Homo sapiens: one gene and its partners. The protein of the gene in region 2 interacts with the protein of the main gene of each other region in a biochemical or structural test. Each region holds a gene or a part of one and is shown on either strand. Other genes may lie near its edges. The genes, in order: GNAI3, RGS12 and DGKZ.

Evidence for each region.
Region 1: the proteins of RGS12 (region 2) and GNAI3 form a complex in vitro, tested with the Homo sapiens proteins (one study listed by BioGRID).
Region 3: the proteins of RGS12 (region 2) and DGKZ interact in a test that uses a peptide from one of them, tested with the Homo sapiens proteins (one large-scale study listed by IntAct).

What each region holds. Positions count from the first base shown.
Region 1 is NC_000001.11:109,576,027-109,579,675, reverse strand, and holds part of GNAI3 (guanine nucleotide-binding protein G(i) subunit alpha-3), read right to left. Parts: intron 473-3,649; coding exon 315-472; intron 1-314. UniProt on the Homo sapiens protein: Heterotrimeric guanine nucleotide-binding proteins (G proteins) function as transducers downstream of G protein-coupled receptors (GPCRs) in numerous signaling cascades.
Region 2 is NC_000004.12:3,320,412-3,324,060, reverse strand, and holds part of RGS12 (regulator of G-protein signaling 12), read right to left. Parts: intron 137-3,649; exon of another isoform or gene 1-136. UniProt on the Homo sapiens protein: Regulates G protein-coupled receptor signaling cascades. Inhibits signal transduction by increasing the GTPase activity of G protein alpha subunits, thereby driving them into their inactive GDP-bound form.
Region 3 is NC_000011.10:46,353,875-46,357,523, reverse strand, and holds part of DGKZ (diacylglycerol kinase zeta), read right to left. Parts: intron 1-3,649. UniProt on the Homo sapiens protein: Diacylglycerol kinase that converts diacylglycerol/DAG into phosphatidic acid/phosphatidate/PA and regulates the respective levels of these two bioactive lipids.

The DNA of each region.
Region 1 (3,649 bases), on a different chromosome or scaffold from region 2:
ACTTATGAGTTGGAACAGATTCAGAACCCAGCCACAACAGATGTCTCTCCTCCTTCACTTGCTTATAATAAAATGCCATGGAACTAATTTTGTGGTGCCAAGTCTCCCATTTACATTCCAAGAGGGAACTTTTTTCTCCAAATCATACAAATGACCAAGGGCTCTATAATCCTAAACTTAGACAATTTTTATAAAGTATCCTATAAACGTCTAAGAGTGTCTATTACTTAAACATTTCCTTAAGTGGGGACTAAAATTTCTGTAGTGTCACCAAGTTATTCTCTGTTATAGTTTCACAGAGAAAAATTACTTACTATGAAGCAGAATCATTGAGCTGATATTCCCTGGATCTGCTGAAGCAAGCTTGTACCCCACCATCTCGCCATAACCGTTTAATCACTCCTGCTAGTTCTGGAGTCATGACTCCTTCTTCAGCACTGCCAGCTAAAACAAATAATTGCCGGGCATCATCCTGAAGAAAGCAGTTAAGAAAGAGACAGATGACTCTCCATTTCTTTAAGACTTGATGACAGTCTCTTTAAAATATAGACACATTACATGTTATGTTAAAAGAGGTGTTGTTACAGAGACCTTTTCTGACAGGCCAGCATGACAGAATTTATAATTAAGTCTTTCCTTATTCTCATTTCACTACAGTTTTAAGTCCAGAACTGAGCTGAGGAATGATTTTACTTCCCCACCACTCCTCCACACACCACCATCCCCAGAAAAGATCATTTCTGGCCAGCCCACAAATCTCCATCCAGATTGCTAATAATTTTTGAGAGAAAAAAACTGGTTTATGAGACAGGATTATGTAAAACATTCCCGTTCTATTAAAGGAAGCCTACACTAAAAATAGAAATAAAAAGACTAGCACATAAGAGGTAAAGTCTAAACACCTCAAAGGGAGTAAAACATTAATCAAGTTTAAGAAAAAAGTATTCTCTTCTTTGCCTTCAGCCCAGACAGTAGAACAAGAAGAGGAGATGGAGGCACTTAAGGTCTAGAAGCCTAATGGGGGAAATAAATCCCTCAGGGAAAGATTCAAACAGTCCCTAGATTTCCCTAAAGGAATAAGGAATAATAATAATGTTCTGAGAGAGGGAAAGGAAGGGAGCAGGAGGAAAAGAAAGTAACCATAACTTCATGAGTCATAGCCATGGTTTTCTTTATTTCTTTTCTTTTTTTTTTTTTTTTTTTTTGAGACGGAGTTTCGCTCTTGTCACTCAGGCTGGAGTGCAATGATGTGATCTCGGCTCCTTGTAACCTCCGCCTCCTGGGTTCTAGCGATTCTCCTGCCTCAGCCTCCCAAGTAGCTGGGATTACAGGCATCTGCCACCATGCCCAGCTAATTTTTCTATTTTTAGTAGAGAGGGGTTTCGCCATGTTGGCCAGGCTGGTCTCGAACACCTGACCTCAGGTGATCCACTCGCCTCAGCCTCCCAAAGTGCTGGGATTACAGGCGTGAGCCACTGGGCCCAGACATAGCCATAGTTTTCTAGGTGGTTATAGTTTTTAAACATAAAATATGTGAGGGAGAGGACAGAAATGGATTATGAGATTTTTATTGTTTTCCTTTATTCTATCCATCCCTACTTGTTGGTTTAAAATTAAACACAGGTCTCACGGGATGATTTTCCCATCCACATCTAATATTTATCTACCTTGAGAGATTCCAAATAACTATAAAAATAAAAAATTTAAAAAGTATATAACGTGTAAAGAAAAAGTAAAGGAGAAAGGGGAGCAATCATTTGTATCTTAAGTAGTCATCAAGACAAATAAACTAACAAGCAAAAGTCATTTCAGACCACAGGTGAACTCACAACCTAAAACTCCAAAGACTTGTGAATTACCAGAACTTGTGCATCCACCTTAGCAAAACAAAACCATCCATGGTGCACTCAAATTATTTTTGCCAAACTCTGGGTCTCCAGCTCTAATGGTTTTTACCTAGTAATATTTCCTCCTTTATGATCCTTTCCTGTATTCTTTCTAGTAATATTTAGGCTCAACCCACTCTCATTTAGCTTCTGAGATCAGGCGCATTCAGGGTGGCATGGCGGTAGACTAGGCTCAACTCTAAGACACCTTAGCTGGTCGGGCATGGTGGCTCACACTTGTAATCCCAGCATTTTGGGAGGCCGAGGCGGGTGGATCACAAGGTCAAGAGATTGAGACCATCCTGGCCAACATGGTGAAACCCCATCTCCACTAAAAATACAAAAATTAGCTGGGCATGGTGGCGTGTGCCTGTAGTCCCAGCTACTCGGGAGTTTGAGGCAGGAGAATTGCTTGAACCCAGGAGGCGGAGGTTGCAGTGAGCTGAGATGGTGCCATTGCACTCTAGCCTGGGCGACAGAGCAAAACTCCATCTCAAAAAAAAAAAAAAAACAAAAAAAACACCTTAGCTAAGATCTATATGCCCCTCCCTTTCTTTTCAAAGATAAAATTTTAAACAAATGAATGAGAAAAGTTGAAATATTAGACAAATTGGCAAACATACTCAGCAGTGAGCATGTCCTTGTACATATGCAAGGTATGGTGCTTTATCTAACATGTGAAGTCTTCATAATCCCCTGGTTCTGAAATTTGACCTATACCCATGCACGTATTCAAATAACCTTATTAAGCACTACTTTAAAAAAAAAAAAAAACAGAAAAAAACCATGACTCTAATTTTAGAAACTTCAAAAGAGAGGGAATTATTACTACTTTTTTTGCTGTCCTGACTCTTTAAATATTCTTTTAGGAGCAAACACTTTTTTCTTATCACTTAATTTCTTCCACTGACCTGCTCTTGCTTCCCCACAATAAACCCTCTCTAAAGGTCTATAAAGAGGTGCCTCTTGGCTGGGCATGGTGGCTCACGCCTGTAATCCCAATACTTTGGGCAGCCAAGGCAGATGGATCACCTGAAGTCAGGAGTTCCAGACCAACCTGACCAACATGGAGAAACCCCCGTCTCTACTAAAAATACAAAAAAATTAGGCGGGCATGGTGGTGCATGCCTATAATCCCAGCTACTCGGGAGGCTGAGGCAGGAGAATCGCTTGAACCCAGGAGGCAGAGGTTGCGGTGAGCCAAGGTCACACCATTGCACTCCAGCCTGGGCAACAAGAGTGAAACTCTGTCTCAAAAAAAACAAAAAACAACAACAAAAAAAAAAACAGAAGAGGCCCCTCTTTACAATAAACTTCACACCTCCACACTTAAGCAGATGTGAAAAAGGAACCTATTCCACACTCAGCTCTATTTTTTTTCCATTCACACTCTCTAACCAACTATAAAAAACTAGAGTAGAAGCCGGGCACAGTGGCTCACACCTGTAATCCCAGCACTTGGGGAGGCCAAGGCAAGTGGATCACCTGAGGTCAGGAATTCAAGACCAACCTGGCCAACATGACGAAACCCCATCTCTACTAAAAATACAAAAATTAGTCAGCCGTGGTGGCAGGCGCCTGTAATCCCAGCTCCTTGGGAGGCTGAGGTAGGAGAATCACTTGAATCCAGGAGGCAGAGGTTGCAGTGAGCCAAAATCGTACCGTTACACTCCAGCCTGGGTGACAAGAGCAAAACTCCGCCTCAAAAAACAAACAAACAAAAATACTAGAAGACAATAAGAGAGGAGCTATAAACATAAAAC
Region 2 (3,649 bases):
GCTAGCTCTGGGACCAAAATCTGTGGCTCACGTTGCCAAGCTGGAAAAGGCAAAGGCCACAGAACCTGCCAATAAACTGGGTGAAATGAACACTGTTGAGTTTTCTGTACATCAAAATAACACAAATTCTCCTTCAATAAAAAAGGGGGCATTCTCTCTCTCTCTCTCTCTCTCTCTCTCTCTCTCTCACACACACACACACACACACACTACTGACAAAAATATAAACTAGAAAACCTCTTTGGTGAGCAATTTGGCAAACTTTAAAATGCACATACACTTTTAAAAACAGCAATTCCACATCTAGGAACCTACCCAAAAGAAAACTCACATATATACAAAGATAGAACTTTAAGAATTTTTACTGCAATCCAGCTTATTATTAAATATAGAAACAGTCTAAGGTTGCCATCAACTGGGGACTGATTCAGTAAGAAATGGCACAGGCATATGACATAATACCACGTGGCCACTACAATGAAGAAGAGTTTTTAAAATTGATATATAACTATGTACATGAGAAATTTGTTTTAGAAAAAAGTAACTCACAGCAGTATGTCACATGTATTTTCAATAAAGGGAAGGAAAAGGAAGAGAATATCCAAGAGCCTGTGCAAACAGAGTAAGTCCATGAAAGGAAGCGAACTCTGAACTGCAGCTCCCCGCGCGGAGCGGGGCAGAGGCAGCAGCAGCATCTAAGGCTCTGACTCTTACAGTGCTGTTCGCATTGTGTCTGTGATTGTACCTTTGGGTATGTCGTCATGAACAAATGGTGGAGAATGAGATGATGAGCACCCACCAACACACTGCACCGCAAGAAATAAAACTGCACCAACACGAGCGAGGCGCCACGGCACCCCTCCCGGGAGAGGCCCCCCAGCCTGGTGCTTGCTCGTCCTCCCGCTCGCCCCTGGCTTGTCCTCCCACCGAGGGGCACGCGCCACCCTGGACAGCAGACTGCGCTGCTCACGGGCTTGAGGCTTCTGTATTTTGCCTTTTTTATGAGCGCGATTTTCAGATGTACTTCAGGTGATGCAGGTACCACTATCTCACTCAGATGTAGCTCTCGGGTACTCCAGTACACCCATAAGGTATTTCTCCATTCTCTGTTAATGGTCTTATCTCAGTAAGCAACAGTTGAGAAGGAACTCACTCCTGCAAATCCAACCTTCTGCGGGCAGCAGTCCTCAAGTGCTGTGGTCTCAGGACTCCTGGGAGTACCTACAAACGACTGAGCACCTCAGCGAGTCTTTATTTTTGTGGGTTTCAGCTACTGATGTTTCTCATACCAGAAATTAAACTGAGGAATTTAAAAATATGTATTCATTCATTTCAAAATTACACCAATCAATCCTTTACATATCACAAATAACATATTTTCATTTTTAAAATTTCCAAAATCCATTGTATGGAAATTTTAAGAATTTGGGTGCTGCTACTTAACCAGGTATTTTAATTAATTAATTTAATTAATTAATATAACTTTGAGTCAGTTTGCAGAGACACAGAATTAAACACGCTTGCCTTAAATGAAACACAAGGCAATCATTTTTGATGACAGAAGCATTTCGAGATCCTGGGTTCTCTTTCACATCAGCCCCTTTTGTTAGTCACAGGCCTGAATGCTTATCTCCATGAGAACCAGCTTGTGCTGGCTACAGACATTAGGCAGAGACAAAGAGCAAACTACACAAAAGGGAAAGCAGTCCACTTCCAAACATCATCTCACCCACTTCAAGAATTTCAGACCCTCAGCGAGTCTACAAGTAACTCAGCTCCCCTTCCTTGCTCCTCCCCAGAGGAGGGAGAAGCTGACAAGGATGAGCTGGCACAAGGTCACCACGTGGCTCGGTGTGCAGGGGGTTAGAGCTTTCCATCTCACCAAGGAGACGTAGAAATGCCGAGCAACAAGGGGTCTGGCTCGCTGGTCCCCAGGCTTTCACAGGAGCAAGTGGCCACTGAGGGCGGAAACCCGGGCTGAGCCTGCAGACAGCAGGATGGAGGCGGCAGTGACAAAAGCGTTGGCAAAGGACAACAATGGAGAATCTGGTGGCAGTTAGGACACAGAACTATTGGCCTTAGAGACCAACTTGTGACTAGATGCAGTATTATATTTCTTCTAATAGTCAGCTTATTTTGCATACAGATTAAGAAAGGCTGGTGCCAGTAATTTCAAAGGGAACGTTTAACATTCATAGAACTAGTAATAACTGTGTAGAGGGAATGCTGAAGATTGTTCTAGGGCTAAGGGCGAGTGCCTAAGCCAAGGACACCGTCAGCAGGGGCCCCTGCCCAGGCCTGGGCCTCAGAGCGCGCTGGACACCACATGCCTGCAGTCCACTGGGGGGAGGAGCTGACGTGGCTGTCCAGGCCGGAGCTGCTCCACAGCCACAGAAAACCCTGCCCTGGGGTGCAGGCAAGCCAAGGCGGACTCAAAAGCAGAAGCTGGGAGTGAGATGCCCTTGGGGGTGCTGAAGAAGGGTGCATACAGACGCTGGGTAGCCTAACGGGGCACTGTGCCAGACACCAAGGCATTTCTTCTCAGCGCCAAACCCACCCTGCCGTGCCCAGCTTCTGATCCTGGCACTGGGCCTTGAAGACCACATGGCTCCTGCCCAGGGGCTCAATGTTCAGCAATGGGCACAGGCACTGCCTCCCAGATGGAGTGGGGTGGACTGGCATGTGAGGGTCCCACATCGTTTTTCCTGGGGACTGGGGACAGCCACCAATCCTCACCTGGAGCTGCTTCACTCTCTCACAGCTGCGATGGACTCACAGTCCTGTCAGATAAGGCCCCTACTCTGGGTATCTAAGCCTCCCACGCCCACTTTTCTAGACTCAGCCCCTTTCCACACTGATGACCTTAGCCTTTCTTTTCTCTTTCAGCAGCTAACCTTCTTTTCCTTTGTTAACGATTCTGTATACTGAATTTTTCCTGTTCAAATTACTGCTGCGTTTCCTGTCTCCTGGCTGGATCCTGACTGATTCCACCTGAGTTTGTGCAAAGTAAAGCCCTGAAGTCCCCGTCACTAAGAATCCGGAGTCACGTGAAGCTCGCTGCCTGACACCATGGCACCCTCCAGGGGCCTCCTCTGCTCTCTCCCTCCCTGTGCCAACTCTGCTGCTTCTTCTAACTTCCAGGCACTTCCTGCATCCCTGCTGGCCCCTTCTCTCAGCACAGGCCAGCGTCCAGGTGGGGCCCTGATCGCTGCGGACGGTCACGGCCACCTTCGAAACTCTGCAGACCTGTCCACGGCGACGTCCGGACCCATCTTGTGGCCGCCTCATGACCCCTGGAAGCTTCTGCTGCTCTAACTGGGGAGGCTATGGGATCAGACTCACCTAACTACACAGGGAGGCCCACTTGGCAAAGTAAACAGCAACACTTAAACCTCAAGAGATTACAGCAGGAACCCATAAAACACAACACGTTACTACCTGTTTATTTTTAGATAGTGTATCACGCCACATTATGAAGGCCACTCCAAATCCCACACGGAGCGCCAGGGCTGTCTTGGTCCCAGCACTCACATGCCCTGTGACTGTGAGCAAGTCACCTGACAGCCAAACCTCAATCGCCTGGCCTGATGGCCTCAGGATTCCTATCAAGGTAAGGATGCACTCTGCAAAGCAGTGACCGCCACACCGT
Region 3 (3,649 bases), on a different chromosome or scaffold from region 2:
TGTGTAACCACATGCAACGGCTGACCACAGGCTCCAGCTGGCTCAGGCCACTTCTCTTTGTTGGGTACAAGGGGATGGCAACAGCCTTGGTTTGGGTGGCCACCTTCCTCTCCTCTCTAGAGGACCCCAAGAGTGACACCTGGAGGCCCCTTTCTGGGCTGGATGCTATCGCCCGCTCCATGTTCTCCATGGCTTTCTCATGAAAACTAGATAGTCGGTTTGGTGACATGAAGTCACAAGGGGAGGGTGGTGGGCAAGGAAAGGGGAGGAGGGGCTGTCTCAGAGGCTTGGGGGCTAGGCGGGGATCCTAAGCTGGCCTGAGCTCCTTGGTGAAATACCCCCAGTCTCTTCTTTCACATCCGAGTCCCTGACTCAGCCCCTGCTAGGCCTCAAAGAGATGTTTGCGCAACAAATGACCAACCCATTCCTTTAGTGCCTCCCTCCAAGCCAGACTCCCGCTGCCATCAGAATTCATCCTAAAGCACCCAATCACCTTTTACTGACTCTACTGTCAGCTGAGCAAAATGCAAAGACCTGGGGCTGGCAGGCAACAGGCCTCCCAGCCTCCTCTCTGCTCTTTCATATTTTTAATGCTGTATTTGACACTTACATAACTCACTCCACCAGACACTACTCTAAGTGTTTTTACAAATATTAAGCTACGAATCCTCCTAAGAATAGTTGGTATTCTTATCCCCATGGCCCGTATCCTCATATTGCAGATGAGGAAACTGAGAGACAAAGCGGTTAAGTCATTTGCCTGAAGTCGTCCAGCTAACATGTGGCAGTGCTGGGGTTTGAACTCAGTAGTGTGTTCCATGGCACATACCCTCGACCCCTCAGGCTCCACCCTGGATGCTTCTGGCAAACAAAACACCGCGGGTCCCTTTTCCACGTGGCACCACGTGGCATCCGGTGGTCTCCCTACCTGGAATACCACTCCCCTCTCTACTCAGTGAATTCTCCCTCATGGTTTTCCTCTCAGACCCTGGGCAATCAGCACTAATGTGCAAATCTGCATCCCCGGACAGGCTGTGAGCCCCAGGGCCTCACATTGCTTCTAATGGCATCCCCAGAGTGTAGAAGTGCTGGGTGTGGTTTGAAGAGTGAGTGGAGGGAACAGCGCATGGTCTGGACTCAGCCTCATGGATCCCGCTGACAGCACAGGCTTCAGGTGGGCACAGAGCCCCAGGAGTGGGCCAGCTCCCGAGAACTTCCTGCTGCACTGGGTGGACAAGTCTGGTCTGGGCTGAGCTCTGGTGTCTCAGAGGCAACACTGAAACCGATCCCTGATGGGAATGCCAATATATCTCCCTTAGCCTCCCAAAGGGGCCCCTTTGTTATAAACCCCTCGCGGGCCCCCACTCTTCTCTGGTGACCGTCCCATCCTTGTCTTCTCCTGTGTCTGCAGAGGGCTCCCATTCCCCATCTGCTGGGAGAAGCATTTCCCCCTCACCCCTCATTCAATATTAACACCCTGGCCGGGCGGGTGGCTCATGCCTGTAATCCCAGCACTTTGGGAGGCTGAGGCGGGCAGATCACCTGAGGTCAGGAGCTCGAGACCAGCTTGACCAACATGGAGAAACTCCATCTCTACTAAAAATACAAAATTAGCCGGGTGTGGTGGCCCATGCCTGTAATCCCAGCTACTTGGGAGGCTGAGGCAGGTGAATCGCTTGAACCTCAGAGGCAGGGGTTGCGGTGAGCCGAGACCGCGCCATTGCGCTCCAACCTGGGCAACAAGAGCAAAACTCCATCTCAAAAAAAGAAAAAAAAAAAATTTAACACCTCCCCCCTCAACTTTCTGACCATGTTGCTCCCTCCCCCATCAGCCCCCAGGGCCCCACCCCACTCTCCAGGCTTCCACACTACTCACACAGGGGACAAAGGCCTTCACAGTAGGTTTAGCTTCAAAGGCCCAGAGGATCTGCCTCTGACCAGCTACATGACCTCAAGCTAAGCCTTTTAACCTGCCTCAGCCTCAGTTTCCTGATCTGATAAATAGGGCTAATGCCCACCCTCGTCTCTCTCAAGGGAGTGTTGCAGGCTTGAAGGAGAAAGTGTTTGTTCCTGGGAAACAATTCCCCAGTTTACTGAAAGTTTTAAGAAAGAAAATAGCCGGGCGCGGTGGCTCATGCCTGTAATCCCAGCACTTTGGGAGGCTGAGGCGGGCGGATCACGAGGTCGGGAGATCGAGACCATCCTGGCTAACATGGCGAAACCCCGTCTCTACTAAAAATACAAAAAATTAGCCGGGCGTGGTGGCGGGCGCCTGTAGTCCCAGCTACTTGGGAGGCTGAGGCAGGAGAATGGCCTGAACCCGGGAGGCAGAGCTGGCAGTGAGCCGAGATCGCACCACTGCACTCTAGCCTGGGCGAGAGTGAGACTCTGTCTCAAAAAAATAAAATAAAATAAAAAAATAAACACAGAGGCCTAAAAATTAGGACAACTACTTCGGAGCACAATTTGGCAACATCTGTCTAAGCTGAAAATACACAGACCCTGTGAGCAAGCACTGGTGGAGAGAACACAGAGGGATCGCTTGCAATAGCGAAAAACTGCACACCACCCAAGTGTCCGTCAACAGAGCCTGGGCAAATAAGCTGCTGTTACACAATGGAATCGGACGTGGAGGTTAAAATGGATCCGTGAGAATTCATGTTTAGGATGGTTAAATCTCCAAAACAATATTGAGGGAAAAACCTAAATGCAGAATATGCCTGGTATACCATTTAAACCAGAGTAAAATCATACGAAACAGCACTGTATGTTGCTAGGCATGAATACCTATGTAGGACAATTTTAAAAACAGGCACAAGAACATCACACACACCAAAATCAGAATTGTGGTTTCCTCCAGGGAGTAAGACACAGGGGCCTCCATCTCTATCTAAAGCAAATATGGCCTAATGCTAAGCTCCAACCAAGCTAGGCAGTAGGTGTCACCTTATTCTGCACACTTTTCTAACGCCAAGATATTTAATGTGTTTAGAAAGATTTCAAAATCATTTCTTAAAAAGACTCCAGAGGCTGGGCACAGTGGCTCAGGCCTGTAATCTCAGCAACTCAGGAGGCCAAGGTGGGAGGATCACTTAAGGCCAGGAGTTCGAGACCAACCTGGGCAACATAGCAGGACCTCGTCTCTACAAAAGAAAGAAAGAAAGAAAAAATGAGCCCGGTATGGGGGCCCCCACCTATAGTCCTAGCTACTCGGGAGGCTGAGGTGGAAGGATTGCTTGAGCCTAGGGGTTTGAAATTACAGTGAGCTATGATTGTGCCACTGCACTCCAGCCTGGGTGACAGAGGGAGATCCTGTGTCCTACAAAAGACCCCTTGAGGGAGACCAGCCCCCTAGAGCTCCCTGGGTCTACCAGGGATGGTTTTGGCAGCCTGTCCCTCACCCTTTCAGGGCCCTCAGGATGGAAGGAAGGTCTCCCCCAAGGGGATGCCTTCCAGAGGTGGGTGGGTGGTGGCAGGCTGTGTCAGTGGGGTGTCCGTGTGGGTTGGGGAGCAAGAACCAGCTTGCCCCCTTTCACAACCGCCCCCGCCTCTCTCTGTAAAATGTCAGCAAGCTGGGGAAGGGGGCGGAGAGACAGGCAAGCTGTTAACCCGCGAGATGCTGGGGTGTGGGCGGTGCGGGCCCAGGCTC